4 linked regions of the Homo sapiens genome follow. The protein of the gene in region 3 interacts with the protein of the main gene of each other region in a biochemical or structural test. Each region holds a gene or a part of one and is shown on either strand. Other genes may lie near its edges.

Evidence for each region.
Region 1: the proteins of ITGB7 (region 3) and MADCAM1 form a complex in vitro, tested with the Homo sapiens proteins (one study listed by BioGRID).
Region 2: the proteins of ITGB7 (region 3) and TLN1 form a complex in vitro, tested with the Homo sapiens proteins (one study listed by BioGRID).
Region 4: the proteins of ITGB7 (region 3) and RABGAP1 form a complex in vitro, tested with the Homo sapiens proteins (one study listed by IntAct).

The regions. Positions count from the first base shown.
Region 1 is NC_000019.10:491,291-499,554, forward strand, and holds the start of MADCAM1 (mucosal addressin cell adhesion molecule 1 isoform a precursor), read left to right. Parts: upstream 1-5,195; 5' UTR 5,196-5,209; coding exon 5,210-5,261; intron 5,262-6,542; coding exon 6,543-6,827; intron 6,828-7,205; coding exon 7,206-7,535; intron 7,536-8,264. UniProt on the Homo sapiens protein: Cell adhesion leukocyte receptor expressed by mucosal venules, helps to direct lymphocyte traffic into mucosal tissues including the Peyer patches and the intestinal lamina propria.
Region 2 is NC_000009.12:35,707,905-35,715,384, reverse strand, and holds part of TLN1 (talin-1), read left to right. Parts: intron 1-197; coding exon 198-326; intron 327-508; coding exon 509-625; intron 626-697; coding exon 698-811; intron 812-1,011; coding exon 1,012-1,146; intron 1,147-1,303; coding exon 1,304-1,432; intron 1,433-2,086; coding exon 2,087-2,189; intron 2,190-2,341; coding exon 2,342-2,550; intron 2,551-3,260; coding exon 3,261-3,380; intron 3,381-3,592; coding exon 3,593-3,790; intron 3,791-3,990; coding exon 3,991-4,130; intron 4,131-4,302; coding exon 4,303-4,396; intron 4,397-4,498; coding exon 4,499-4,588; intron 4,589-4,643; exon of another isoform or gene 4,644-4,701; coding exon 4,702-4,824; intron 4,825-6,900; coding exon 6,901-7,044; intron 7,045-7,480. UniProt on the Homo sapiens protein: High molecular weight cytoskeletal protein concentrated at regions of cell-matrix and cell-cell contacts. Involved in connections of major cytoskeletal structures to the plasma membrane.
Region 3 is NC_000012.12:53,196,772-53,204,251, reverse strand, and holds part of ITGB7 (integrin beta-7 isoform a precursor), read left to right. Parts: intron 1-3,057; 5' UTR 3,058-3,180; intron 3,181-3,798; exon of another isoform or gene 3,799-3,805; 5' UTR 3,806-3,808; coding exon 3,809-4,009; intron 4,010-6,300; coding exon 6,301-6,502; intron 6,503-6,588; coding exon 6,589-6,759; intron 6,760-7,431; coding exon 7,432-7,480. UniProt on the Homo sapiens protein: Integrin ITGA4/ITGB7 (alpha-4/beta-7) (Peyer patches-specific homing receptor LPAM-1) is an adhesion molecule that mediates lymphocyte migration and homing to gut-associated lymphoid tissue (GALT).
Region 4 is NC_000009.12:122,985,746-122,993,225, reverse strand, and holds part of RABGAP1 (rab GTPase-activating protein 1), read right to left. Parts: intron 7,012-7,480; coding exon 6,807-7,011; intron 3,930-6,806; coding exon 3,755-3,929; intron 3,171-3,754; coding exon 3,013-3,170; intron 1-3,012. UniProt on the Homo sapiens protein: May act as a GTPase-activating protein of RAB6A. May play a role in microtubule nucleation by centrosome. May participate in a RAB6A-mediated pathway involved in the metaphase-anaphase transition.

The sequences.
Region 1 (8,264 bases), on a different chromosome or scaffold from region 3:
TTTAAAGAAACAGTTTAGTGCCCTTTATGGTGTTTGCGACGTCGTGTAAACACCAGCTCTCTAGTCTCAAACCCGGCGAGGGCGGTTCATAGACAATTTCAGTCTCTCGACGCGACGCCGTGTGGCTTGTGCCCTTCTAGCCACCTAGACCCTCGGGAGAGGCCTGTGCGGCTCCTGGCTGGGCCCCCGTCTTCAAAGCAGCTTTTGAGTGGCCCTTTGACCCGTGAGACAGGGCCGTGGAAGCTGGGGTGAGCCTGGAGATGCCCCCGGGAGCACCAAGGCGTCAGAGCAGCTGACCAGGGCCCCAGGCCTCGCCGCTTCCCCAGGCAGAGCCGGCCCCAAGCCCCGCCTCTCCCCTGGGCGGAGCCAGCCCCAAGCCCCCCTCCCCTGGGCGGAGACAGCCCCAGGCCCCGCCTCTCCCCTGGGCGGAGCCAGCCCCAAGCCCCCCCTCCCCTGGGAGGAGACAGCCCCAGGCACCGCCTCTCTCCTGGGCGGAGCCAGCCCCAAGCCCCCCCCTCCCCTGGGCGGAGACAGCCCCAGGCACCGCCTCTCCCCTGGGCGGAGCCAGCCCCAAGCCCCCCCTCCCCTGGGAGGAGACAGCCCCAGGCACCGCCTCTCCCCTGGGCGGAGCCAGCCCCAAGCCCCCCCTCCCCTGGGAGGAGACAGCCCCAGGCACCGCCTCTCTCCTGGGCGGAGCCAGCCCCAAGCCCCCCCCTCCCCTGGGCGGAGACAGCCCCAGGCACCGCCTCTCCCCTGGGCGGAGCCAGCCCCAAGCCCCCCCTCCCCTGGGAGGAGACAGCCCCAGGCACCGCCTCTCCCCTGGGCGGAGCCAGCCCCAAGCCCCGCCTCTCCTCTGGGCGGAGCCAGCCCCAAGCCCCCCTCCCCTGGGCGGAGCCAGCCCCAGGCCCCGCCTCTCCCTGGGCGGAGCCAGCCCCAAGCCCCCCCTCCCCTGGGCGGAGCCAGCCCCAAGCCGGCTCTCACCATAGTGTGCCTCCTGCCCCATGGACCCCCATCCCCCCAGACCCCTCCTGATTAGCTCAGGTGGGGCTGCCGTGGAGACCACACCAGCATCATCGCCTGAGGCTCCATGTCCAATTTCCCCGGGGCTGCTGGAGACTGAGCACTGCCCCAGCCCCTCACCAGGCGGTCACTGACCCCAGGGAGGCCTGTCAGCTCTGCCCAGGCTCAGCGACGTGGTCAGCTCGGCCAGCCTGCGGGGAGGGACTCGACTCGGACAAGGGTTCCTTCAGGGACCTGTGCCAGGTGGGCCACGAAGATCCTTCCTTCCTCCTTTTTTTTTTTTTTTTTTTTTTTTTTTGAGACAGTCTTGCTCTGTCGCCCAGGCTGGAGTGCAATGGTGCGATCTCGGCTCACTGCAAGCTCCGCCTCTCCGGGTTCACGCCATTCTCCTGCCTCAGCCTCCTGAGTAGCTGGAACTACAGGCGCCCGCCACCACGCCCGGCTAATTTTTTTCGTATTTTTAGTAGAGACGGGGTTTCACCGTGTTAGCCAGGATGGTCTCGATCTCCTGACCTCGTGATCCGCCCGCCTCGGCCTCCCAAAGTGCTCGGATTACAGGCGCCCGCCACCACGCCTGGCTAATCTTTTTTGTATTTTTAGTAGAGACGGGGTTTCACCGTGTTAGCCAGGATGGTCTCCATCTCCTGACCTCGTGATCCACCCGCCTGGGCCTCCCAAAGTGCTGGGATTACAGGCGTGAGCCACCGCGCCCGGTCGATCCTTCCTCCTTAAACCTGATGCGGGAGCCAGGCCCACCCCCATCGTGGGCTTCATGGCTACAACTCCACACGTACACACGCACACACGCATGCACGCACACAGACGCATGCACACACACACATGCATGCACATGGCTACTTATTGAACCCCCTCCTGCAGCCTCCATCAATCTCATTCCTCCCCCACTCTCCTTGCGACCCTCAGGTCTGGGGTCCTTGGACTGGGTTCAAGCCTTGTCCAACAAGGAGGCCCTGCCGTGATGGGGGTCCTCACTCCAAAGAAAAAGCCATGAGGACCCCAGAACTGACCAGTGGGTGGGAGACAGGAGAGCTGGCCCAGCTGGGTCAAGAAGGGTCTGTCAGGGCCTGGGGCGTGCTCCGCTCCTGGACAACGGCGCCCTCACAGCCCCTTCCCCTCAGGGCAACACAGTCATCTGGAACGCTCCCTCGGCAGCTGTGGACAGGGAGGCCAGGATGTGGGGTCTGGGGCTGGTGGGATGGCTGGGACCCTCCATGGGAAGGGGGGCTTCCTGGCTGGGACCCTCCATGGGAAGGGGGCTTCCTGACGGAGGCCGCCGAGGACAATGCCGGGAAGGGGATTGATGTTGGGGGCGGGGTCGAGTCTCCCAAGGACAAAAAGGAGGTCCCCGTTGCCGGCGGAAGATACGGTGTAGGCCTTCCTGTGGGACTAGGACTCAGACCCAGGGGTCTCAGGGTCCTCCCCGGCCCTCAGGCTGCTGGCCCACCTCGGTCTCTCCATCCCTCTGCCTCTGCCTCTCTGTGTCTCTGTCTCTGTCTCCCTGTGTCTCTCTGCCTTCTCTCTTCCTCGCTCTGTCTCTGTCTCTCTGTGTCTCTATCTCCCTGTGTCTCTCTGCCTTGTCTCTCTTCCTTGATCTGTCTCTCCCTCTCTGTGTCTCTGTCTCCCTATGTCTCTCTTCCTCACTCTGTCTCTGTCTCTCTGTGTCTCTGTCTCTCTCTCTCTGTCTCTGTGTCTCCCTCACCCCCGCCTTCCCCACCTCTGGCCGTTGAAACCTGCGGGTCCCTCTGCCTCTGGGAACCCTCCCTCCTCCTTCCTGTGTCCATCCCACCTGCCCTGTCCTCAGGGGGACCCCAGCTTTGTTGTCTCCCCGCCCCCACAAGCCTGTGGATGTGAGGGCTCGGCACACGGGGACTGTGAGCAGCGTGATCACCACGCGTGACCCAGCGGGCGGGCGGGGGACAGGGCCCTGGAGAGCTGGGACACACCCTGCAAGGGGCCTCAGCCCTCCTGGCGCCCAGTGGTCCCTCCCCACCTGCAGGAAGTAGGGTCGGGGGCTGGGAAACAGCCCATTCACCAGGCCTGCTGCCCCCCGCCCGGGTTAAGGGCCCAGCTTCCCGGGAAGGGCCTGCACCTCCGGCCTGGGGAGGGCCCCTCCTCGGAGTCTGCTTTCCGGTGAGGCCTTTCCCGGCACCAGCCTGGGCAGGAGGGGGATGGGACCCAGGGAGACAGGGCTGTGAGCTCACACACCTGGGCCCTCACCTCTGAGGGGACTGTTTCCCCACCCCGGGCCTCAGTTTCCCTCCTCTAGGCCTCAGTTTCTCTCCTTTGCACCCAGCCCCTCCTCTAGGCCTCAGTTTCCCTCCTCAGCACCCAGCCCCTCCCCCGAGCCTCATTTTGCCTCCTCTGCACCCAGCCCCTCCCCTAGGCCTCAGTTTCCCTCCTTTGCACCCAGGCCCTGCCCTGGATCTCAGTTTCCCTCCTCTGGTCCCAGCCCCACCCCTGGGCCTCAGTTTCCCTCCTCTGATCCCAGCCCCTCCTCTGGGCCTCAGTTTCCCTCCTCTGGTCCCAGCCCCGCCCCTGGGCCTCAGTTTCCCTCCTCTGATCCCAGCCCCTCCTCTGGGCCTCAGTTTTCCTCCTCTGGTCCCAGCCCCGCCCCTGGGCCTCAGTTTCCCTCCTCTGGTCCCAGCCCTGCCCCTGGGCCTCAGTTTCCCTCCTCTGACAGGTAAGCCGATTGGCAATGCTTGGAACCCCATGGACTGGCTGCTGCTTTTTATTCCATGGCCAGGGAAACTGAGGCACAGACAGACCCTGAGGTCAGCAGGAATGCTCCATCATTTTATTCCCGCGTGCCTGCGGTGCATGGGGTCCAGGGTCACAGGACCGGCCCCTGGGTGGAGGGGAGCCAGCCATCACGACTGCCACCACAGGCCCTCATTGAGCTAGGAGCAGAGCACCCTGGGAACCACAGCGGAGGAGGGTGGGGGGCGAGGGGGTGAGGGGGTGGGCAGAACCTGGGTAAGGTGAGGAGCAGCCCGGGCAGAGTCCCAGAGGCCCTGGGAGGGTCCCGGTGATGCAGGGGGGTAAACAAGCCACCAGCGGAGACAGAACCAGTGTGCGGGGCTTGGAGGAACAGGTGGGTGGATTCCAGTGCGTTTGGAAGATGAGGTTCCCAGGACTCGCTGATGGCAGCTGTGAGTGGGAGTCCAGCCAGCATCCCTTCCAGATCCCTCTTGTGGACCGAGATCCAGGTCTCAGTGTAGACCAAGGAACAGAGGCAGCCCCTACTCGGGCTCCCAGGCTCCAGCCAGGCCTGCTAGGTGGGCGGCCTCTGCCCGTGTGATGGAAGGAAGCCAGGCTCAGAGATGGGGTGACTTGTCCCACGTCCTGGAGGGTCTCACAGCTCCACCACGGCCAGGAGACTTCAGTCCAGGGGGCCTCCATCCCCAGCGACCTTCACCTGACCCCCAGGGGACCCCAGCCAACAAGACCCGGCCTGCAGCTCCGGAACGGGGGAGGGCTGCTCTCCACCGCCCCTGTGCGGCCGCCCGGGAAAGTGCAGGCGGGCCGGGCGCGGTGGCTCACGCCTGTGATCTCAGCACTTTGGGAGGCCGAGGTGGGCGGATCACCTGAGGTCGGGAGTTCGAGGCCAGCCTGCCCAACATGGAGAAACCCTGTCTCTACTAAAGATACAAAATTAGCCAGGCGTGGTGACGCATGCCTGTAATCCCAGCTACTGGAGTGGCTGAGGCAGGAGAATCGCTTGAGCCCGGGAGACAGAGGTTGCGGTGAGCTGAGATCGCACCATTGCACTCCAGCCTGGGCAACAAGAGCGAAACTCAGAAAAAAAAGAAAAGAAAGTGCAGGGGACCCGCCGTCGGGGTGGGGGCGGCGCTGCCCAGCCTCTGTCCCACTTCCATGCACTTGACCTCGACCCTCCGGCCTCCGTCTGCGATCTTCCCGTGCCTGAATATGAGGCTTGGAACAGACCCAGACCTTCCTGCCTGCCCGTCCTGAGTGGCCCCGGGACCCCGCCCCATCTTTGGCCCCCAGCCCCTGCCTCTCTGCCGCCTCCAGGGTCGGGGGTCAGGCCAGGAAAGCCCCTTGGGAAGCCCCCGGGGAGCAGCTGGAGCGGGGTCGCCGGGCGGCGGGAAGGAGTGGGCGCCTCTATTTAAGCGGCTTCCCCGCGGCCTCGGGACAGAGGGGACTGAGCATGGATTTCGGACTGGCCCTCCTGCTGGCGGGGCTTCTGGGGCTCCTCCTCGGTGAGAAGGGGAGGGGGCGCGGGAGAGAGGAGTGAGTTAGGAGGGGGCTCAGGAGAGAGGAGGGGGCTCAGGAGAGGGGAGGGGGCTCAGGAGAGAGGAGAGGGCCCGGGAGAGAGGAGGGGGCCCAGGAGAGGGGAGGGGGCTCAGTAGAGTGGGGGGGCTCAGGAGAGAGGAGGGACGCAGGAGAGAGGAGGGGCGCAGGAGAGAGGAGGGGGCTCAGGAGAGTGGAGGGGGCTCAGGAGAGAGGAGGGGCGCAGGAGAGAGGAGGGGGCGCGGGAGAGAGGAGGGGGCGCGGAGGGGAGGGGGCGCAGGAGAGAGGAGGGGGCGCAGGAGAGTGGAGGGGGCGCGGGAGAGAGGAGGGGGCGCGGGAGAGGGGAGGGGGCTCGGGGGAGAGGAAGGGGCGCGGTGAGCGGGGAGGGGACGCGGGAGAGAGGAGGGAGTTAGGAGGGGGCTCAGGAGAGGGGAGGGGGCTCAGTAGAGTGGGGGGGCTCAGGAGAGAGGAGGGACGCAGGAGAGAGGAGGGGCGCAGGGGAGAGGAGGGGGCGCAGGAGAGTGGAGGGGGCTCAGGAGAGAGAAGGGGCTCAGGAGAGAGAAGGGGCGCAGGAGAGAGGAGGGGCGCGGAGGGGAGGGGGCGCAGGAGAGAGCAGGGGGCGCAGTAAAGTGAAGAGGACTCAGGAGAGAGGAGGGGGCGCGGGAGAGGGGAGGGGGTTTGGAAGAGAAGGGGGGCTCGGGAGAGGGGAGGGGGCTCGGGAGAGGGGAGGGGGTTCGGAAGAGAAGGGGGGCCCGGGAGAGGGGAGGGGGCCCGGGGGAGAGGAAGGGGCGCGGTGAGCGGGGAGGGGACGCGGGAGAGAGGAGGGAGTTAAGAGGGGGCGCAGGAGAGAGGAGGGGCTCGGAGGGGGCGCGGGAGAGACGAGGGGTGCTCAGAGTTAAGGGGCTCCGAGATAGGGGGTGATTGGTGATCCTGCCAGAGGAGGGGGCTCGGAGGAGGCAGGGGCTGAGAGGGGAAGTTGCGGGGCTCCGCGCGGCCCCCTGACCCGCAGCGAAACTGGCTCCAGGCAGCTGGGGTTCGGGGGACTGGGGCAGAGGCGGCGGTCGGGGCGGGGTTCAGGGACCGAGCCTGGGAGTCCGGGTAGCGGCGGGGCAGGGGTCCGGGGGTGCAGCGGAGGGTCCGGGAACCGGGCAGAGGCGGGGCGGGGTCCGGGGGTGGAGCGGGACGCAGGGCCGGTGGCGGGGCGGGGTCCGGGACTCCGCGGGGCTGAGCGAGAGCCGCGGTCGCCGCAGGCCAGTCCCTCCAGGTGAAGCCCCTGCAGGTGGAGCCCCCGGAGCCGGTGGTGGCCGTGGCCTTGGGCGCCTCGCGCCAGCTCACCTGCCGCCTGGCCTGCGCGGACCGCGGGGCCTCGGTGCAGTGGCGGGGCCTGGACACCAGCCTGGGCGCGGTGCAGTCGGACACGGGCCGCAGCGTCCTCACCGTGCGCAACGCCTCGCTGTCGGCGGCCGGGACCCGCGTGTGCGTGGGCTCCTGCGGGGGCCGCACCTTCCAGCACACCGTGCAGCTCCTTGTGTACGGTGAGGCGTCCCCCCGCGCCCTGCCTCTCTGACCCTTGGACTCCCGGCTCCTTCCCTATGCCACCTCTTCCTGGAAGCCTCCCAGATTGCAGGCAGGGTCCCAGCTCCATGCACAGCTCCCCGAAGCCAGGTCCCCGGCCTTCGCTTCCCTCCAACTCACCCCAACTCTCCCAGGGCCGGCCCTGGCCCATCCTCCTGTCTATTCCAGCCTCCCAGGGTGGGGCCACGGGGCCTGCGCACAGGCCGTCCCTACTGCCTGTTCATCAGCAGCCCCCACGCATCCTTGGCCCCAGCTCCAAGCCCCTCCGGGCTCCGGCCCCTCCATCACGTCCAGCCCTGACTCTGGGCTCAGCCCTCACCCCCGACCCTCCATCACAGCCTTCCCGGACCAGCTGACCGTCTCCCCAGCAGCCCTGGTGCCTGGTGACCCGGAGGTGGCCTGTACGGCCCACAAAGTCACGCCCGTGGACCCCAACGCGCTCTCCTTCTCCCTGCTCGTCGGGGGCCAGGAACTGGAGGGGGCGCAAGCCCTGGGCCCGGAGGTGCAGGAGGAGGAGGAGGAGCCCCAGGGGGACGAGGACGTGCTGTTCAGGGTGACAGAGCGCTGGCGGCTGCCGCCCCTGGGGACCCCTGTCCCGCCCGCCCTCTACTGCCAGGCCACGATGAGGCTGCCTGGCTTGGAGCTCAGCCACCGCCAGGCCATCCCCGGTGAGTCCGCTGGGTGCCCTGGAGACCCACCCGCTCGCCAGCCTTGACAAGCACTTCGGGACGGGGTGGGGGGGTGGGGGGGCAGCACCTGTGCTGTGGGGCGCTGGGAGGACTGGATTCCCCCACGCAGCGACAGCGACATTCATCGACGCAACATGTATTTGCCGAGCACCTGCCCCCCAGCACAGGTCCCACCCCTCCCCTGCCCACAGCGCTCCATGGCTCTTGCCTTGGGGTCAAAGCCCAAGTCCTCCCGGGGGCCCACAGGAACCTGCACGACCTACCCTGTCCCCTTCCTGTCCTCCCTCCACCCTTTCTCCCCCTCCTCATTCTGCTGCAGCCACACGGGCCTCCTCGCCTCCTCGCTGTTCCTCCAACACACCAGGCGTGATCCTGCCCCGGGGCCTTTGCACGGCTGTGCCCTCTGCCGGGAATACCCTTCTTCCGGATCTTTCCACGGCTCTCTCCTCCTCCCCCTCAGGTCTCTGTAGAATGTTGCCTCCTCCGTGAGGCTTCCCTGGATTCCCGTTTAAAGGGTCAACCCCTGATCCCCAACGTGTACAAACATAGGCACACAAGCACACACATGTACAAACACAGACACACACACGCGTGCACACAGGCACACACGCACACGCGTGTACAAACAGGCACACAAGCACACACGGGAACAAACGCACACACCCACACGCGTGTACAAACACAGGCACACAGGCACACGCGTGTACA
Region 2 (7,480 bases), on a different chromosome or scaffold from region 3:
ATCCTAGCCCCCTGAGGTTTCCCATTGACCTTCATGAGTCAGCTCCTCTCAAAGGTGATTGCCTTTTGGTGGGGCTAGTTAGAGATGACTTCAGGAAAATACATGAATTTTAAACTGAGTCTAGAGGAGTGAGAGAGGAGCTTCTTTAGGATCCACAGGAGAGCTGGGTGATGACTGTCTTTCCACCTCTCCCTCAGGGAGCAGCTGCCCACCCTGACAGTGAGGAGCAGCAGCAGCGGCTGCGGGAGGCAGCTGAGGGGCTGCGCATGGCCACCAATGCAGCTGCGCAGAATGCCATCAAGAAAAAGCTGGTGCAGCGCCTGGAGGTGAGGCTGGGAGTTTCACCAGGAGCAAGAGAGAGTGTGGGTGCTGTGGGAGGAATGAACTGAAAGGGAGGTGCGGAGAGTAAGTTAATACGTCCTTGAGGCATAACCTGGGCAAGGTAGGCCAGGGACTGGGCTGGGCATGGGAATCCATGGGCTTGGTCTGACTACTCTTGTCTTCACAGCATGCAGCCAAGCAGGCTGCAGCCTCAGCCACACAGACCATCGCTGCAGCTCAGCACGCAGCCTCTACCCCCAAGGCCTCTGCCGGCCCCCAGCCCCTGCTGGTGCAGAGCTGCAAGGTAAGACTCTAGGAAGGATGTGGGAGTGGAAGAGGGAGACTTGTGGGTCTCTTATGACATTTTCACCTACAGGCAGTGGCAGAGCAGATTCCACTGCTGGTGCAGGGCGTCCGAGGAAGCCAAGCCCAGCCTGACAGCCCCAGCGCTCAGCTTGCCCTCATTGCTGCCAGCCAGAGCTTCCTGCAGGCAAGGCACCCCCTCTGCACTTCTCTGACCTGACCTTCCCACCTTTCTAAGCTTCCATCTCCCACAGTTTGAATCTCTGCCAAGAGCCTCTTTCCCAATACCAAGCCCCAGTGTTCCCTACATCCTGACCATCATCAGTCCTTGTACCCAAGCCCAGAGGGAGGATGGCACACTTCATCCACCTGCCTATTCCCCAACAGCCAGGTGGGAAGATGGTGGCAGCTGCAAAGGCCTCAGTGCCAACGATTCAGGACCAGGCTTCAGCCATGCAGCTGAGTCAGTGTGCCAAGAACCTGGGCACCGCGCTGGCTGAACTCCGGACGGCTGCCCAGAAGGTATGGAAGCTGGTTCTGGCTTTGGAAGATGAGGCTGGAGTCCTGTGATGAGAGGAAATCTGTGCAGAATAACCCAATACGCAGATAATTGTGTAATCAGAGGCATTGGTGAGACACAGCAGGACCTTCTACACCCAAAACCCCTTTCTTATCATAGGCTCAGGAAGCATGTGGACCTTTGGAGATGGATTCTGCACTGAGTGTGGTACAGAATCTAGAGAAAGATCTACAGGAAGTGAAGGCAGCAGCTCGAGATGGCAAGCTTAAACCCTTACCTGGGGAGACAGTAAGTATGTTTAAGACCTCATTCTTACTCAAATCCTAAAGTCTTCCTTCACCTCCGTGCCCCAGAGCTGCTCAAAACCTTTCCTTCCTTCCTTTTTCTTTTTTCTCTTTCTCTCTTTTATTTTTCTTTTCTTTCTTCTTCCTTCCTTTTTTCTTTCTCTTTCTCTCTCCTTCCTTCTTTCTTCCTTCCTTTCTTTTCTTCCTTTCCTCTCCTCTTTCTTTTCTTTTCTCTTTTCTTTTCTTTTCCGTTCTTTTATTTCTTTTTCTTTCTTGATGGAGTCTCGCTCTGTCACCTAAACTGTAGTGCAGTTGTGCAATCTCAGCTCACTGCAACCTCTGCCTCCTGGGTTCAAGCCATTCTCCTGCCTCAGCCTCCTGAGTAGCTGGGATTACAGGCATGCACCACCACGCCTGGCTAATTTTTGTATTTTTAGTAGAGATGGGGTTTCGCCATGTTGCCCAGGCTGGTCTTGAACTCCTGACCTCAGGTGATCCACCTGCCTCAGCCTCCCAACGTGCTAGGATTATAGGTGGGAGCCATCGCACCCAGCCCAAAACATTTATTTAAATTGCCACCTGTCCCCAAGTACCTTCTCAGGTTCCTTCTCCTCACCTTCTCCTTTCTCAAGCCCAATTCTTCCCCCTTCATCCTTAGATGGAGAAGTGTACCCAGGACCTGGGCAACAGCACCAAAGCCGTGAGCTCAGCCATCGCCCAGCTACTGGGAGAGGTTGCCCAGGGCAATGAGAATTATGCAGGTATGTGGGCAGAGAGCCAGGCATGGGGCATATTGTGAGGGAGGTAGGAAAATGGGAGCTGGATGAGGGATGGGACTGACAGACGAAACCACTGGAATCAGGGCCTGGCAATGAAAGCACCTTCCCTTCCCTCTTTCTCCTCATCTCCCAAGGTATTGCAGCTCGGGATGTGGCAGGTGGGCTGCGGTCACTGGCCCAGGCCGCTAGGGGAGTCGCTGCACTGACGTCAGATCCTGCAGTGCAGGCCATTGTACTTGATACGGCCAGTGATGTGCTGGACAAGGCCAGCAGCCTCATTGAGGAGGCGAAAAAGGCAGCTGGCCATCCAGGGGACCCTGAGAGCCAGCAGCGGCTTGCCCAGGTCAGATACTGGGAAAGGGCCACTCCCTCTCCCCCAGGTTCCTTCATAAGGCCCACCCTGATTGAGGCCAAAGCTTCTGAGCCTCGTCCACACTCACAGAGTGATGTCTTCTTGGGTCTGCTCTTGACAGCCCCTCTGTGGATTCCACCCTTATGTTCTCTTAGTCTTTTTTTTTTTTTTTTTTTTGAGACAGAGTTTTGCTCTTACTGCCCAGGCTGGAGTGCAATGGCGCAATTTCGGCTCAGTGCAGTCTCCGCCTCCTGGGTTCAAGTGATTCTCCTGCCTCAGACTCCCTAGTAGCTGGGACTACAGGCATGCGCCACCACACCCAGCTAATTTTTGAATTTTGTTTTAGTAGAGACAGGGCTTCACCATGTTGGCCAGGATGGTCTCGATCTCTTGACCTCGTGATCTGCCCCCCTCGGCCTCCCATAGTGCTGGGATTACAGGCGTGAGCCACTGTGCCCGGCCCTCTTGGTCTTGTAGAAGTGTCTCAGTTGGATTCAGTCATGGGCTGAGCTAAACACCAAGTTTGGGGAAGTTTAATTACTGTCACTTGAAACCCTAACCTCAGCCTGTTCACCTACAACGCCCCCTTTCTTTTTTCACTTTCAGAGGCAGTAGAGCTAGTCATCTCCCATGTCGCGTGAATGGAGGCGATCTCTCAAATTCTTTTCACTTGGGCAACCCTGTCTCCTTTCTCACCCCAGGTGGCTAAAGCAGTGACCCAGGCTCTGAACCGCTGTGTCAGCTGCCTACCTGGCCAGCGCGATGTGGATAATGCCCTGAGGGCAGTTGGAGATGCCAGCAAGCGACTCCTGAGTGACTCGGTAGGAGGACGGTAGGGGGTGGGGGAACGTAGGAGTCAAAGAATGCCAGGCCTCTCCTTCCTCCCTCTCGGTTGTCCTTTGACCCTGACTTCCCAGATCTGTCCCCTTTCATTACTCCCAGGCTATGTGCCCACCTTTTCAGCCCTCCTTTACCAGACTTCTCCCTGCATCATTCCCCACTCTTCTGTCTGACTTCCCCTCTCACCTTGCAGCTTCCTCCTAGCACTGGGACATTTCAAGAAGCTCAGAGCCGGTTGAATGAAGCTGCTGCTGGGCTGAATCAGGCAGCCACAGAACTGGTGCAGGCCTCTCGGGGAACCCCTCAGGACCTGGCTCGAGCCTCAGGCCGATTTGGACAGGACTTCAGCACCTTCCTGGAAGCTGGTGTGGAGATGGCAGGCCAGGCTCCGGTATGAAGAGGCAGAGGGTCTGGTTGAATGGTTCCCACTAAGGGTTAGATAGGAGGCAGTTGAGTGACCAGTCCTGACTTGCTCCTGGCTCCCTTCCCTCCCCAGTCTCTAGCACTACTTGAGTGTCTGGGAAAGAAGATCCCTTTTAGAGACAGATAAGAAAGGACAGGACAATGCATTGACCTTGTCACCTTCAACAGAGCCAGGAGGACCGAGCCCAAGTTGTGTCCAACTTGAAGGGCATCTCCATGTCTTCAAGCAAACTTCTTCTGGCTGCCAAGGCCCTGTCCACGGACCCTGCTGCCCCTAACCTCAAGAGTCAGCTGGCTGCAGCTGCCAGGTAAGTAGTTGCTGAGAAGCCCAGCCCTGGACTGTGTGAGAGAGACTGGGGAGCAGGCAGTTCATGAGAGCTTCTTGGCTTAGGAATGGTTATAGGCAAAAGATAAATACTTACATAGGACCCAGGAATGATGACCTATTCACCTTTTCACTCAACTTTCTGTCACTCCCAGGGCAGTAACTGACAGCATCAATCAGCTCATCACTATGTGCACCCAGCAGGCACCCGGCCAGAAGGAGTGTGATAACGCCCTGCGGGAATTGGAGGTAGACACATGGCAGGCTGATGGCATTGAGGTTGAGGGAAGTGTTCTGGTTTTGGGCCTGAGGGAGGTGTCTTGGATCTCACTTTGCCCTCCCCCTACACAGACGGTCCGGGAACTCCTGGAGAACCCAGTCCAGCCCATCAATGACATGTCCTACTTTGGTTGCCTGGACAGTGTAATGGAGAACTCAAAGGTCAGCACAGCCAGGAACTCGGAGGAGAGAGGGCAGTAGGATGGAGCTAACCAGATGCTGCCCTGGGGTTCTGAGGACATGCTCTGACTCCCCTGATGTCCTCTGTTCCTCAGGTGCTGGGCGAGGCCATGACTGGCATCTCCCAAAATGCCAAGAACGGAAACCTGCCAGAGTTTGGAGATGCCATTTCCACAGCCTCAAAGGCACTTTGTGGCTTCACCGAGGCAGCTGCACAGGTTATTTTCCTGAGATGGGTTCTTTGAATGGCCCCTACTTTCTTTACCCCATTTTCTCTCAGCCTGACATACCTGTAGATAAATCAAGAAGTTTATGTTTGCAAAGCCAACTCTATGGAATCTGGGTTGTCCTCCTCCTGAAGTGGAGACACTTGTCAGCAATTACTGAACACCAGCAGTTCTGATTTCTGTAATTCCTGAACCCTGGTACTTTGGTTAGGATTACACTGCCCAACCGTGAGGCCTTTTCCAGCTGGCTTTCTCAAAATATACTAATTAGCTTATACAAACTATTTTTTCATGTTATTACTACTTTCTTTTTTTTTTTTTTTTTTTTTGAGACAGCGTTTCGCTCTGTCGCCCAGGCTGAAGTGCAATGGCGTGATCTAGGCTCACTGCAAGCTCCGCCTCCCGGGTTCACGCTAGTCTCCTGCCTCAGCCTTCCAAGTAGCTGGGACTACAGGCGCTCACCACCACACCCGGCTAATTTTTTGTATTTTTTTTTTTTTTTTTAGTAAAGACAGGGTTTCACCATGTTAGCCAGGATGGTCTCGATATCCTGACTCGTGATCCACCTGCCTCGGCCTCCCAAAGTGCTGGAATTACAGGCGTGAGCCACCGCGCCTGGCCTGTAATCACTACTTTCTTTTTTTTTTTTTTTTTTTTTTTTTTTTGAGACCGAGTTTCGCTCTGTCGCCCAGGCTGGAGTGCAGTGGCGCGATCTAGACTCACTGCAAGCTCCGCCTCCCGGGTTCACGCCATTCTCCTGCCTCAGCCTCCCGTGTAGCTGGGACTACAGGCGCGCGCCACCATGCCCGGCTAATTTTTGTATTTTTAGTAGAGACGGGGTTTCACCGTGTTAGCCAGGATGGTCTCGATCTCCTGACCTCGTGATCCGCCCGTCTCGACCTCCCAAAGTGCTGGGATTACAGGCGTGAGCCACCGCGCCCGGCCAATCACTACTTTCTTAAAATAGTACTAGTGACAAAATTTCCAGTTACTTGAGTTATCACTTAACTTTGCCTTTTCCCACATTATCAAGTATAAAACTACCTATTAGCTGTAAAGTATTTTGCTTTAGTATATGAATCCTTAAAACAAACTGGCATCATAAGAGTTCACTTCAGACTATTTTCCCTGAAAGCCTACCATCCTAGCCCTCCATCTCCACCACCTCCCTGTGCCCTGTCAGAATAGGCGCCTTGCTCTAGATGGCTTGTTTGATTTTGTTTTTTTGTTTTTTTGGTTTTTTGTTTGTTTGTTTTTTGAGACGGAGTCTCGCTCTGTCGCCAGGCTGGAGTGCAGAGGCATAATCTCGGCTCACTGCAACCTCCGCCTCCCGGGTTCAAGTGATTCTCCTACCTCAGCCTCCCGAGTAGCTGGGACTACAGGCGCCTGCCACCACACCCGTCTGATTTTTGTATTTTTAGTAGAGACAGGGTTTCACTAAACCTCTTTGTTGTTTGTTTGGTTTTTTTCCCCCCACCTTCTGAAAATGCATAGAGGAAAAAGCAAAGCTACTGTGTATTGATTGAAGTATGAATCAAACATTAGGATGTTCTTTCCATCATAAAAATGGCTTTTTAACCCCTCCCTTCCTTTCCAAATATCTGACGCATGGAGGTGCTATAAATGTGAATTAGCCTAATAACCTTCATCAGTTTTGAACTGTCTTTAAAAGAGGCTTTGCTTGTGTGCACAAAGGTGTGTATTTATATATGGCTCTCAAACGTTTTACTGCTACTTACAGTAAGCCATACTTTTCACTCTAAGACCCAACATACACAAACATATCTAAATAGAGATTGGATAAAAACCCTTGCTATGTAGTTTTCCTTTTTATTAACTTTTTTAATCTTCTGAAATGCTTGAATATACTTAATGAAAACAGGAGAGTATTTTTTTTCTTCTTTATAGTGTAACCATTGTTTGCTAATGTATCTCCACTCATGGAGAACTCTGGAAAATAAGCCCTATTCTCTAAACTTACCTCTGCTCTCTTTTGTCCCTACTATCACTATTCATTTCCCACCTGCAATCTTTATTCCTCACCCCCACCCCCTTTTCTCTTCCCAGGCTGCATATCTGGTTGGTGTCTCTGACCCCAATAGCCAAGCTGGACAGCAAGGGCTAGTGGAGCCCACACAGTTTGCCCGTGCAAACCAGGCAATTCAGATGGCCTGCCAGAGTTTGGGAGAGCCTGGCTGTACCCAGGCCCAGGTAACTCAAGGGAACAGGGACCACAGGCGAGTCTGGGAAAGGGCAGACCGACCCCGTGGAGTAGAGGGAGGTGAGGCATGTGGGAAAGAGGGCAGGGACCCATCTCTGACCTTGCACACACAGCTTCTTTTTGGGTAACTGTCTTTTTCTGCCATGGGTCTCATCATTTATCAGTTACTGCTAAATTCACAACTTCTCTGTAGATGTTCGAGCTTACTCTCCCACATGCCCTCTTATGGTTTCTCCATTAGTATGTCTTTCCTCTCCCATGCCCAGTTCATCTTTGGGTATCTCTGTCTCCTAGATCTTGACTTTTCAGGTGACTCTGTTATTCCTGTTTTGACTCCTCAGGGTATTGCTCTCCATCCCCTGACCCTAAAATGGCTCCTCCTTGGGTATGTACACCTCCTTCCTGCCCTCATCGTGGCTCTTCCAT
Region 3 (7,480 bases):
ACCACCACCATGCCTGGATAATTTTTGTATTTTTAGTAGATATGGGGTTTCACCATGTTGGTATGGCTGGTTTTGAACTCCTGATCTCAAGTGATCCACCCGCCTCGGCCTCCCAAAGTGCTGGGATTACAGTCGTGAGCCACTGTGCCCAGACCCATTTCATTGCTTTTTATGGCCAAATAACGTTCTGCTGTATGGATATACCACCTTTTCTTTATCCATTCATCAGTTGATGGACATCTGGGTTCTTTCTACCTTTTAGCTATTGTGAGTAGTGCTGCTGTGAACATTTCTGTACCAGTTTTTGTTTGAACACCTGTTTTCAATTCTTCTGAGTATATACCTAAGAGTGAAATTGCCAGGTTATAGGATAATCCTATGCTCAATTTATTGAGGAACCAAATTGTTTTCCACAGAGATTGTACCACTTTACATTCCTTACACGGTAATGTATAAAGATCCCAATTTCTCCATGTTCTCATCAACACTCATTGTTTTTCATTTTTTGATAGTCATTCTAGTAGAAGTGAAGTGGTATCTCATTGTGGTTTTTTTCTTCTTCTTTTCTTTTCTTTCTTTCTTTTTTTTTTTTTTTTTTTTTTTTGAGACAGGGTCTCGCTCTGTCGCCTAGGCTGGAGTGCAGTGGCCCGATCTTGGCTCACTGAAGCCTCTGCCTCCCGGGTTCAAGCGATTCTTGTGCCTCAGTTTCCCGAGTAGCTGGAGCTACAGGCATGTACCACCATGCCCAGTTAAGTTTTGTATTTTTAGCAAAGATGGGGTTTCACCATGTTGCCCAGGCCGGTCTTGAACTCCTGACCTCAAGTGATCCACCCACCTCAGCCTCCCAAAGTGCTAGGATTACAGGTGTGAGCCACCATACCCAGATCATTGTGGGTTTCATTTGCATTTTCCTAATGATTAATAGTGTTGAGCATCTTTTCATTTGCTGGGTGGCTATTTGTCTATCTTCTTTGAAGAAATGTCTTTTTAAGTCTTTTGCTCATTTTGAAAGTTGGGTTGTCTTTTTGTTGTTGAATTGTAAGAGTTCGTTATATATTAAGGATACTCATCTGATATATAATCTGCAAATATTTTCTCCCATTCTGTGGGTTGTCTTCGCTCTCTTGACATTGTCTTTGATGCACAAAACTTTAAATTTTTGATGAAGTCCAATGTATCTGTTTTTCCTTTTGTTGTTTGTGCTTTTGGTATTACAGCTAAGAATCCATTACCAAGTCCAAGATTATGAAGATTTACCTATATACTTTCTTCTAAGAATTTATAGTTTTAGTAGTTATATTTAGGGCTTTGATCTCTTTTCAGTTAACCTTTGTATATGGTGTGAGGTGGGGAGGGGGTCCAACTTCATTCTTTTGCATGTTGAAAGCACCTTTTATTTTTTGAGAAAAAGTGGTGGCGTGTGCCACTACACCCGGCTAATTTTTGTATTTTTAGTAGAGACGGGGTTTCACTATGTTAGCCAGGCTGGTCTTGAACTCCTGACCTTGTGATCTGCCTGTCTCGGCCTCCCAAAGTGTTGGGATTACAGGCATGAGCCACGGTACCTGGCCTTTTTTTAAAGATGGAGTTTCAGCTGGGCATGTAATCCCAGCTCATGCCTGTAATCCCAGCACTTTGGGAGCCTGAGGCAGGTGGATCACTTGAGGTCAGGAGTTTGAGACCAGCCCGGCCAATGTGGTCAAACCCTCTCTCTACTAAAAATACAAAAACTAGTCGGGTGTGGTGGCGCATGCCTGTAGTCCCAGATACTTGGGCGCCTGAGGCCAGAGAATTGCTTGAATCTGGGAGGCAGAGGTTGCAGTGAGCTGAGATGGCGCGACTGCACTCCAGCCTGAGCAAGACTCCATCTCAAAAAAACAAAACAAAACAAAAAAGACAGAGTTTCACTCTGTTGTCCAGGCTGCAGGGCAGTGGCACAATTGCAGCTCACTGCAACCTCTGCCTCCTGGGATCATGTGATTCTCCTGCCTCAGCCTCCTGAGTAGCTGGGATTACAGGCGCCCACCACCACACCCAGCTAGTTTTTGTATTTTTAGTAGAGACGGGGTTTCACCATGTTGTCCAGGCTGGTCTCGAACTCCTGACCTCAAGTGATCCACCTGCCTCGGCCTCCCAAAGTGCTGGGATTACAGGCATGAGCCACTGTGCCCAGCCCCAGCCCCATTTTTTGAAGACAGTTTTTCTCATTGAATGGTTTGGCACCCTTGTTGGAAATCAATTGGCCACAGAAGCATAGTTTATTTCTGGACTCTTTCAATTCTATTCCACTGATGTATAATATATGTGTATCCTTATGCCAGTACCACACTGTCTTCTTTTTTTCTTTTTAAGAGACAGGGTTTCACTCTGTTGCCCAGGGCAAAGTACAGTGACACGATCATAGCTCACTGCAGCCTCAAACTACTGGGTTCAAGCTGTCTTCTCACCAGCACTGGGATTACACGCATGAGCCACTGCGACCAGCCAATGCTGTCTTGATCACTGTAGCTTTGCAGTATCTTTTTTACAAGATTATTTTGGCTATTTGGGGTTCCGAGCAATTCCATATAAATTTTAGGATCAGCTTTTCCATTTCTGCAAAAAAAAAAGGGCCAATGGGATTTAACTTTTTGACTTATGAAGCGTGGTAAATGAATTACCTGCTCATTTTAAAAAATTAATATGTTTTTTTAAAATCAGGAATTTGCTTGGCTTTCCTGAAGGTCACTCAAGGTATTACCCTGTCTCCAGGCTCTTTCTTCAATCTAGATTATCTTTGTGCAAAGTACAGAAAGTAGAAAATTTTTTTGCCAACACTGGCCTTTCTCCCCTTATCCCAGACCTGCAGAGAGTTCTTGTGGTCTAATCTTCATTCCTCTTGCTACCATGTCAACCAAGCAGAACTATTCTTCCTTGACTCTTTCACACACTCCCTCATCTGCTCCAGCTTTCTTTTCTTTAATTCCCAGTCACTGACCCTCTTCTCTTATTTAGAATCCAAGATTGTAAAAGCCGCCAAGTATGTCAGACTATTTATTCAACTTCTCCACTTTGCAGATGTGGAAACTAAAGCCCAGAGAGAAAGTCTGACTTGCCCCACAGCCAGTGAGTGACTGCAGCAGCACCAGAATCTGGTCTGTTTCCTGTTTGGCTCTTCTACCACTACGGCTTGGGATCTCGGTAAATAGAACTGGGTGCAGACTTTAGTGCTTTCAGGCTCAGTCCCCAAATCCTTTAGTAGGCCATTTTGCCCACCTTGGCCACATGAAGTCTGCACACAGGAAGGACAGATCTTCTCTGAGGCCCCTATTTTTTTTTTTTTTAAGACAGATTCTTGCTTTGTCACCCAGGCTGGTGTGCAGTGGTGTGATCTCGGCTCACTACAACCTCCGCCTCCCTGGTTCAAGCAATTCTCTTGCCTCAGCTTCCTGAGTAACTGGGATTACAGGTGCACGCCACCATGCCTGACTAATTTTTGTATTTTTAGTAGAGATGGGGTTTCGCCATGTTGACTAGGCTGGTTTCGAATTCCTGAGCTCAGGTGATCCACCCACCTTGGCTTCCTAAAGTGCTGAGATAACAGGCATGAGCCACCACGTCCGGAGGCCCCTACCTTTGCGTGATACCTGCTCCTTCCCATTATTTTGAAGAAACTGCTGAATCCACAGGGGAAGTGAAACTATGAGGGGAGATAAAGTGTTGGGGCAGAGTTTTGAGAGTGATAACCACAAGCTAAGTTTAGAGGACTGAGAGTTTGAGAGTCCTCCCTGAGGACCCACATGTCCCCCTTTATATCCTATTACAGGGCATGGTGGCTTTGCCAATGGTCCTTGTTTTGCTGCTGGTCCTGAGCAGAGGTGAGAGTGAATTGGACGCCAAGATCCCATCCACAGGGGATGCCACAGAATGGCGGAATCCTCACCTGTCCATGCTGGGGTCCTGCCAGCCAGCCCCCTCCTGCCAGAAGTGCATCCTCTCACACCCCAGCTGTGCATGGTGCAAGCAACTGGTAAAGATGGGCCTATGGTCTTTGAACCATGTGTATGTGTATGTGTATGTGTATATGTATGTGCAGCCTGGATATATGTGTGTGATTGTGTGGGCACATGTATGATTTTCTGGGAACACTCCACAGTCTCATGTGTGACTGAGTTTGTGCACATAGGACTCCTGTGTGTGGATATACGTGTGTGCATACACATGCATGCAAGTTTCTTGTGCACTTAGGATTATGTCTGTATCCATTTGCTTGTGTATATATGGAGAGAATTTGTGACCATGAATTGGGAGAAAGTATGTGCTTGTGGGAATTCATGCTTGTGTATAGGTAGAGGGAGCTGTTGTGTATGTAAACATGGGAGAAAGGTACTACCCAGTGCGGGCTGCCATAACAAAATACCATAAGCTGGGTGGTTTAAGCAACAGGAATTCATTTCTCCTAATGTTGGAAGCTGGGAAGTCCAAGATCAAAGTGCTGGCTGATTTGGTTCCTCAGTTAGGGCCCTCTTCCTTGCTTGCAGACTGGCTACCTTCTCGCTGTGTCCTCACATAGTGGGGATGGGGTTGGGGGATGGGGGTGGGAACTGCCTCTCTTCTTGTAAGCGCACTAATTCCATCATGAGGGTTCCACCCTTAGGCCCTCATCTAAGCCTAGGTACCTCCCAAAGGCTCCATCTCCAAATACCATCACATGGAGGGTTAGGGCTTCAACAGAGGATGGGGTGGGGGTGGGGAGGGGTAGGGGTGCAGAGTTCAGTCCATAGCAGCAAGTGTGTGGTTAGATTTCTAAGTCTGTGTTTTGGGTGGAGGCATTCTGTTCCTGGGTGTGTAGTAGCCTATGACTGGACAGGTAGAAAGGGAAGGGGTGGAAGCATATGGGCTTGAGGGGGACTGGAAAGGCTTGAGCTACCTAAGTGGCCAAGAAGGATGCTAGGGAGCAGGTGTCTCCCTGGCTCTTCAAACAAAGCTGTTGTTTGTTTATGCTTTAAAGAGACAGAACTCATGGAGCAGCAGAGCAGGAGGGGTGCCCAAGCTGGGATGGGGGCAGGTCTGCCTCTCTCAGTGTAAGATGGAGGGTTAGATCAGTGTGGGAGCCCAGATAAGAGATGGGGGCAAATTCACATGGAAGCAGAGCTACAGATGCTTAGAGGACCCAGGAGAAAGGCACACAGGGACCCAGGAGAAAGGCACACAGTGAATCTGACTGGACAAGAAGGGTAGATACTGAGTCTGCACAAGGCAGAGAGGCAGAGGTGCCAGGCTGGAGCTGGGGAGCTGGCGCTCTTGAGATGGTCAGGTCTGTGTCTGGCTTCTCCAGTCTCCTGACACCTAGGGCCAGCTGAGAAGCCGCTCTAACCATTTCCTTCCCCTGTGGCTTCCCAACCAGTCCCAGGGATACCAGACATATTGGTGGGGAGGACGCCTCCTCTTCTGTTCTTATCCTTTCCTTTCCAAGGAGCTGTGGGTCTTAGTCTGACCACCTTCCCATTTTGGTGTGAGCTTGCTGGGGAGGTTGGCCTAGGAGGCAAGGCCCCTGTTTTTTTGTGGTAGTGAAGTCTCTAAGATCTCAACAGGAAGTCTGTGACTCTATTGGGGAGGAGAGGGGTAGGTGGCTGGGGCAAGGGGGAGTTGAGATAGGGGAGGGGTGGGGGACTGCTATAGGAAGTGGGGCTCTGACAAGGAAGAAAGGACCAGAGTTCCACCGGTGGCGGTTCATGCCTGTAATCCCAGTACTTTGGGAGGCTGGGGCAGGAGGATTTCTTGGGGCCAGGAGTTCGAAACAAGACTGGGCAAAAAAGCAAGACCCTGTCTTTACAGTAGGAAAAAAAAAAAAGGCGTGGTGGTTCACGTCTGTAATCCCAGCACTTTGGGAGGCTGAGGTGGGCGCACTTGAGGTCAAAAGTTTGAGACCAGCCTGACCTATATGGGGAAATCCCGTCTCTACTAAAAATACAAAAAACCTGGGCGTGGTGGCACATGCCTGTAGTCCCAGCTACCGGGAGGCTGAGGTACGAGAATCACTTGAACCCGGGAGGTGGAGGTTGCAGTGAGCGGAGATAGCACCGCAGCACTCCAGCCTGGGTGACAGAGTGAGACTCCGTCTCAAAAACAAAACAAAACAACAAAAAAGACCGGAGTTCAAGGGTAGCTGTGGCGAGGAAGAGGGGAGGGAATCAGGGACTCAAGGAGTGGACTGGAGGTGGGGGCATTAGAGGTGGCCGGGTTTGCAGGGTGTTTTTGGGAGCGGGGCCCAGGGCCTATGCAGGACCGGGTCCCGACGCGCCTTTTCTTGCTGAGCAGAACTTCACCGCGTCGGGAGAGGCGGAGGCGCGGCGCTGCGCCCGACGAGAGGAGCTGCTGGCTCGAGGCTGCCCGCTGGAGGAGCTGGAGGAGCCCCGCGGCCAGCAGGAGGTGCTGCAGGACCAGCCGCTCAGCCAGGGCGCCCGCGGAGAGGGTGCCACCCAGCTGGCGCCGCAGCGGGTCCGGGTCACGCTGCGGCCTGGTGAGTTAGGGGAGGCGGGGCCAGGCCAGAGGTCTAGGCTGGCGTTCCAATGCGCTCTGCTGACCCGCCCGCCGCCCACCCCCTAGGGGAGCCCCAGCAGCTCCAGGTCCGCTTCCTTCGTGCTGAGGGATACCCGGTGGACCTGTACTACCTTATGGACCTGAGCTACTCCATGAAGGACGACCTGGAACGCGTGCGCCAGCTCGGGCACGCTCTGCTGGTCCGGCTGCAGGAAGTCACCCATTCTGTGCGCATTGGTGAGCCGAGCGCTGCCTCCCGCCCTGTTAGCCCTTGCCTATTCAACCACTGCCCTAGCCTCTGCCAACATCCTGGACTCACAAGGGCCCCAACTTGCCCTCCCAGTTGTTGACAGGCCTAGCCAGGCCACAGGTTCGTTCCTGCATCTCTCCCTAGACACCCATCTTCTAGGTCAGAGCTGGAGAGGACTCAAGAGACTATCCGTTTTACAGGCCTGAGACCCAGCGTCTGGAGAGACTGTGCTCAGGCACTCTCTGGGCCTGGACAGCTGCCCTGGGCCTACCAACCTGGAACCTGCCCTGATGCAAGTCTCCCTGGACAAGACCTAGATGCCACTGTCCCTGGCTCCACATTCTGTGCCAACTCTCCTCTATTCAAATTTCCTTCCTTTGCCTCATGCTGCTACCATATCCTATACCCGGGCCTTCTTCCGCCTTCTGGAAGTTCCCATTTGCCCAGGAAGTTGTGTCCTCCTCTTAATGTCTTCTACCTGCCACTTCCCTGAGCCAGTGGTCTCACTGCTTTGCTTGCCAGTTACCAGGTCCCTGCCCCCTAGGTGCACCCTCTCCCATCACCGTCCTCCCCACCCCACTTCCCATAGAGCGCTCTCATGGGTCCTCTGTTGCTGCCCTGCGACTTCTGGCACAACCTTCATTCCTCTCCTCTCCCAGGTTTTGGTTCCTTTGTGGACAAAACGGTGCTGCCCTTTGTGAGCACAGT
Region 4 (7,480 bases), on a different chromosome or scaffold from region 3:
TTCTCATCATACTTTGTCTATATTTATGTTAAAGTAAAACCACAGTAAATCTTGTGTTATACACAAATATGAGTTGGACAGGGGATAAGTAATATCCATAAACCAACATGTTTTAGTACTCTATTCAACACTTAATTTCTACTTTTAAAATTTGCTATTAATATTATACACAGTATGTTGGAGAACATTCATAATAATAATTCTTTGAAAACCTCAATGATTATTTCTGCAGATAAATTTCCATACATATTACAGAATTACTGGATAAGAGGAACTACCTTTGACAAGTTTAAATCTGACAAACCAAGGTATATTTTGCTAGGATTTCATACATCTAAAGTACTGTTGTGTTAACCTAATATATTTAGGTATAATAATTATTTTGGTATAATAATTATTTAGGTATAATATTTAGATAAAATAAATATTTAGGTATAATAGTAAGTATATAATAGGTTTTATATAATAATAGGTATATAACTATTACATAATTTATATGTATAATATATAATTATTATTATACCTAAATAATATATATTAACCTAATATATTTAGGTATATTGATCATTATACTTAAATAATATATTTAAGTTAACATAACAGTATTTATTATAAACCAGAAATTCAGCAAAGCCATGTAGCAAAAGGAGAACAAAGTCCTAACAAATGTGAAAAGCAAATCTGACCATCCAGGGATTTTCTGTAATAGCACTTTGTCAGTATTAACAAATAGAACAGAGATGTTTATGATCATTCTACCTTGAATATGCCTGATTTCAGAAGGAAGGGAAGTTATACTGATACTTCTGAGGGATCTTAATCTTTCCTATTTAATAATTAGAATTTACAGACCAAAACTACATAAATATTTTCAATAAAGAAAAAAAGGCCAGGCATGGTGAATCATGCCTATAATCCCAGCACTCTGGGAGGCCCAGGTAAATGGATCACTTGAGGCCGGGAGTTTGAGACCAGCCTGGCCAACACGGCGAAACCCTGTCTCTACTGAAAAATAGAAAAAATTAGCCCGGTATGGTGGCAGATGCTTGTAATCCCAGCTACTCAGGAGGCTGAGGCATGAGAATTGCTTGAACCTGGGAGACAGAGGTTGCGGTGAACCGTGATCGTGCCACTACATTCCAGCCTTGGTGACAGAGCAAGGCTCTGTCTCAAAAAAAAAAGAAAGAAAATATATTTAGTTTAAAGGTTGCTTAACAAGGTAAAAAACTACTTAAAATTATACAGATTATAATTTTCACTTTGCAGGGCAGGAAGGTACATTGCAGGAAGGACTACCTCACAGCATTGCTTTGAGAATAGAAATAGTCAGGAATGGTTGGCTCATGCCTGTAATCCCAACACTTTGACAAGCTGAGACTATCACTTGAGACCACGAGTTCAAGACCAACCTGGGCAATGTGGCAAGACCCCATCTCTAGAAAAACTTAAAAAAAAATTAGCCAGACATAGTGGCATGCATCCGTGGTCCCAGCTACTCAGGAGGGCGAGGTGGGAGGACTGCTTGAGACCAGAAGGCTGAGGCTGCAGTGAGTCATGTTTGTACCATTGCATTCAAGCCTGAGCAACAGCGTGAGGCGTATCTCAAAAAAAAAAAAAAAAGAGAGAGAGAGAATAGAAATCTATCTAATTAGAAAGCATAGAGCACAATGAGTCATACTTTACTCCTCAAAGTTTAAGCTGCACTGTACACTAAATTGGCCACCAGATGGCATGACAATTCCAAAGTCTGAAGAAAGACTAAAAATTATCAGTTTTTCTAATAATCTAATAAACCAATCACTGTGCTTAATTTAAAAGCAAAATATTAGAAATATTCATATTTTTATATAACTTCATTTTACCAATTTAATGAGGTAGTCATGGAGGAAACAGACTTCTACATGCAATTACTGATTATAATACAATCATTTTGGGACATGGGCTGTAATTTTAAAAACATCAAGTCATCTTGCAACCATAAAATTTTAAAGTGAGAAAGGGTTTTAGAGTCTAGCCACCTCATTTAATAAATGAGGAAACTACTGACAGATGTAAAGAAACTTGGAAATGGGGACACTGTTAATAGTAACAATAATTAAACTAAAGCTAAGTTTTGACTTCTATTCCATGGTTCTTTCCACCACTCAAAGGATTATCATTATATTTAAAAATTAAAATCAGTCACTTCTAACCCTACAAAAGATTAGACTTCAGACACAGACCTTATTTCTCCCCTTCCAATGTATGCAGATAACTTTACTGGGAAAACTTGACTTGAAAAGGCTTAAGATTTTTAGATTATTAATATAAGTAAATCAACCAACTAAAACAAGCAAATACAATCAGCAAAACAAATATAGCTACAAATCCAGCTGACTAAGCTTTGGCCATATATATATATATATATATATATATATATATATATATATTTTTTTTTTTTTTTTTTTTTTTTTTTTGAGACGGAGTTTCGTTCTCGTTGCCCAGGCTGGAGTGCAGTGGCAGGATCTCGGCTCACTGCAACCTCTGCCTGCCGGGTTCAAGCGATTCTCCTGCCTCAGCCTCCCAAGTAGCTGGGATTACAGGCACCCACCACCACGCCCGGCTAATTTTGTATTTTTAGTAGAGACAAGGTTTCTCCATGTTGGTCAGGCTCATCTCGAACTCCCGACCTCAGGTGATCCGTCCGCCTCAGCCACCCAAAGAGCTGGGATTACAGGTGTGAGCCACAGCGCCTGGCGGTTTGGCCATATTTTTGTGAGCAGTTAGCCACTTGGTATCTGACTAAAAGAAGGTAGCAACATGTTCCCAATATGACAATTTTTTTAATTGCTTTAAAATTCTTCAAACTTTGCCTCTGTTAAATTTATGTATTTATATGCCTTTATCATCCAGATTTTTTTTAAAAGCCCTCCCTTTAAAAGCCATCATTTTATGGTATGAAAGTTATAATCTGACCTAGAATTTCCCCTGAACCACAGCATGTTAATACATGAATAAAATAAGATTCCCTACCTAAAATAACCTTTACCATCATCTTCTTTTATTTCTAAAGACACAGAGAAGGTAAAGATGTCACTGTCAGGAGTCTGGGGTGCAGCAGTGGCTGAAAGTGGGGTCTGCTTGGCAGAACGGCGGAAGGCAGTGGCAAAACTGTAAAGTATCCGGCTTACCTACAACCAGACATGTTAGGAAATGGGCTGTTATCAAAAGATATAAAATACCTTTATTAAGGCTGGAAGATTACCTACTTTGGAGGGCAATAATTATCTTTATCCCACTTATTTCTTTTGGTAAATTACCTAATTTGTTAGGCCTATAAAGCAAGCAACACTAAAAATGTCCAGACAAGGGGTTTTAAAAAAGAAATGGTTGTAAGCACTATAAATCCAATTTAAAAATCACTTCCTAAATTGTTAGAAACTATCTGAAGATATTACAATGAAAACAGTCCTAACAAGTTTTGATTTAAAAGAATGGTTTGCAAATCTGTCAATGTTAGAACCAGAATGCCTACTTAACCCAATCAAAAGTAGCCAACAGATCTCCTCTGACATTCTTAGTAGTAGTAACAAAGTTCTAGTTAATCAAATTTTTAGTTAATTTATATTTTGGCCCATGAGGCTAGAATCACTAAAACAATAGCAGAGAATTTCATCTGGCTTATGAGTGATCATAATAAATACCATAATCATTTCAACCTAGTGAGGGCACTGGTGAAGTTTCATTTGCAGAGAGTTTTCTCTTGAGGACTTACAGCTTCTTGTATTTCACACCGGAAGACGTGTATTCTGAAGAGCTCTGCATTGTAATGACTTTCAGTGAAAGCAAAACAGTCACTCTCAGGAGTTCCATCATGCCCTCTGACACAGAAGAGGATTTTGTAGATAGGGTAGTTTGCTATTTCAGTGTTTGTCTGAGGATCTAAGAGTCTGTTCAGAGAAAAAGATACAGAGAGATTACAGGAATTATGAACAATCTGCACTACGTTTAGATTAAGATGTGAGACTCATTCTTTCTAGTAAGAAGATCATATATTTGGTATGCTGATATTAACCTTAAATTTTAATAAGTAACTCATATGTGAATTCCGGAAGCTATTGATTACGTAATTCCATAGTACTAAAAACCATATAGTATCATGTTTTAGGGAGGCAAACAGAAAGGTATAAACAATATCAATAAGCACATTTCTTATACAGTCTGCTACAAAATAAAGACGATTAATACGTAAATTAGACTACCAAAATACATCATTGAAGCTGTGCTTTTTTTTTTTTTTTTTTGAGACAAGTTTCGCTCTTGTTGCCCAGGCTGGAGTGCAATGGCGCAATCTCAGCTCACCGCAACCTCCGCCTCCTGGGTTCAAGTGATTCTCCTGCCTCAGCCTCCCAAGTAGCTGGGATTACAGGGATGTGCCACCATGCCCGGCTAATTTTTTGTATTTTTAGTAGAGACAGGGCAGGTTAGCCAGAATGGTCTCAATCTTCCGACCTCAGGTGATCCGCCCACCTAGGCCTCCCAAAGTGCTGGGATTACAGGCATAAGCCACCACACCTGGGCAAAGCTGTGCTTCTAATTATCTCCTTTAAAAATGACCTAATCTGTTATGAAAAAATAAAAAACAAAAAACTGATGCTTTTTCTCAGACTGAAACAAGTTTTTTTTTGATTCATGGAAAATAAGGACAGAAATTATACAAAATGTTAACTCCTCAAAAAAAAAAAAATCATGAATAAAAGCAAAAGGATGCCATTCAGTAAAAAATCAAAGGGATAGCATTCATTCAAAAATCTACTTATTCAACAAATATTTATGTGATACCTACAACATTCCAGACTCTGATCAGGGCAGTAAGGCACAACTATGGAAGGTCTAAAAAGAAACTATGCAATTTCAACACTATGTGGGTAGAGCCATTAATGGGAAAGCCTAGAAGGCCTTGCTCATCACGGAAATACCTAGGAAGAGGATCTAACACAGGTTTGAAAGCACTTTTATGAAAACTCTAAAAATGTGGGGTAAAACCGACTAGCTTTCTAACTTCTTTTATAGAATTAAAAATATATTAAAGTCTAACTTCAGTTAGAGGAATGAGTATTGACTAAGAAACATATAGAAATGAGTGCTAAACACATTTTATTAATAGTTTATCATTAATAAATAGAATTTGTGAGTCTTTGCAAAATAGTTATTTAAATACTTAAGGGGAAAAATTACATATACAGATTATTTTACTACAATCAACACACAGCTATTACTCTGTCACCATGAAAGTCCAAAATACTTCTGAGGATACTGAGAAATGGATATTCTATATACTGCTGATAAAAGTATAAACTAGATCAATATTTCTAGATGGCTAGTTGGCAATGTTATTAGAAGCAATAAAAATAGACAAACTCAATAAGTTTACTTCTAGGAATTTATCCTAAGGAAATCAACAGAAGTCTAAAAAGATTGAGCTCAAAGATACCTATTTATAAAACACTGATATTCCCATATAATTAAAACTAGCTATCATCATTCATGCTTTTTTCTCTGAAAGATAAAAGCCTTAAAATGTCTAATATAAGAGATGGGTTATTTATTTATAACCCATTCATATGCCATCATAAATTAAAATTTTTAATAATATTTACTGGCATGAAAAGAGGTTTACGATATAAAACTAAGTACAAGATGGTATGTACAGGTCCATTGCTGTTAAAAAAAAAAGTTGATTCTAACAGTTGTAAATTATGTATGTATATATATGCAGGTATATTTACATATACCTAGACATATACATATACCAATATGCAAAGAAGATCTTAATAAGCCAAGATGTTAACTGTATTTATTAGTGGTAGAGTAGAATTAAGGCTATTTTTATGTGGCAATTTTTTTAAATAAGCATGTATCTTTGGTAATAGGGAAAAAAAATTTATTTTACCTGCATTCATCTGACTTATTGAGCAACAGTATATTTAGCTGGTTGATACAGACATCTGATTAGCTATCTGCAATTGTTATTTGTTCTATTAGTATAAACAGCTAGAGGCTTCTCTGTGCCTCAGTTTTCTCATCTTTTTTTTTCATTTTGCTTTGTTGAGACAGGGTCTCACTTTGTCACTCAGTCTGGAGTGAAGTGGCATGATCACAGCTCACTGAAGCCTTGAACTCCCAGGCTCAGGTGATCCTCCCATTTCAGCCTCCTGAGTAGCTGGGACTATAGGTGTGTATGACCATGCGTGGCTAATTTTTGTATGTTTTGTACAGACAGGGTTTCACCATGTTGCCCAGGCTGCCCAGGCTGGTCTCGAACCCCTGAACTTAAGTGATCAACCCGTCTCAGCCTCCCAAAATGCTGGGATTACAGGCATGAACCACTGCACCTAGCCAGTTTTCTCATCATAAAAATTAAGGGGTGTGCTGGTATAGTTAATATTTAATAATAAATTTTTGTAACTTTCAAACTCAACATGAAACTCCATTTTGAAATAATGTGTCAAGCTTGTATTTTCATCAAAGGAACATGGAAAATATAATCTTTTAGGCTGACTCATGTCAATATATTTCATTTATCCCCAAAACATTAAATGCCTAATGTACTACACATGATCGGGAAGAGTACGAAAAACTATTACAAATAAGTAACCATTTTTCACAAAGGTCACAGTCCTTGGGAGACATGAGTGCCAGGTAAATGAAACGTTACACAAGTAAAATAACTATTAATATGTATTTTATTCACTATTGCTTCTTTCTGAAGCAACAGGTCAGAGATCTGATGTAAATATCGAAAGATTTCAACAAACCAGTCTCACCTCACAATTCCTTCAGACACATTCGGCACTGAAAGGGTAACATCTAGTGAAATCTGACACTGGCTTCTTAAGATGGACATCATCCTTAAGGCTTCCACTTCACTCCTGGGAGCATTTACCGAGGCACAGCCTAAGTAAGTCAGTTTACTGAAAACTACGCTGTCCTCATCGGCCACTGGTGTGAAAGGACTTGAAGCTTCAGAATCTGAAAGAAACAATGAATAAGGAAGTGATTACTTTCACTTTGATATTTTGTTGATACGATTAGCAAGTAAAAATCTGCAAGTAACATTTAAGGTCTAAAATTAAGTATTAATGAGACAATATGCCATACCCTAAAAGAAATGCCCATGAAAACCAGAAATCCCACACTAGAACTCTGTCAGAAACACCAAGATTTTTAGGTACAGGTTGAGCATCCTAAATTCAAAAATCTGAAACATGAAATGCTTCAAATTTCAAAACCTTTTGAGTACCTACATGACACTTAAAAGAAGTACTATTTGGGGCATTTCAGTTTTTGAATTATTGGATTTGGGGTGCTCAGCAGGTAATTATATGCATATTCCAAAATCCAAAAACATCTGAAATCTGAAACACTTCTGGTCCCAAGCATTTCAGACAAAGGATACTCAAAATATAGTGCTATTAGAGTCGGTCTCAATCAGACTCAG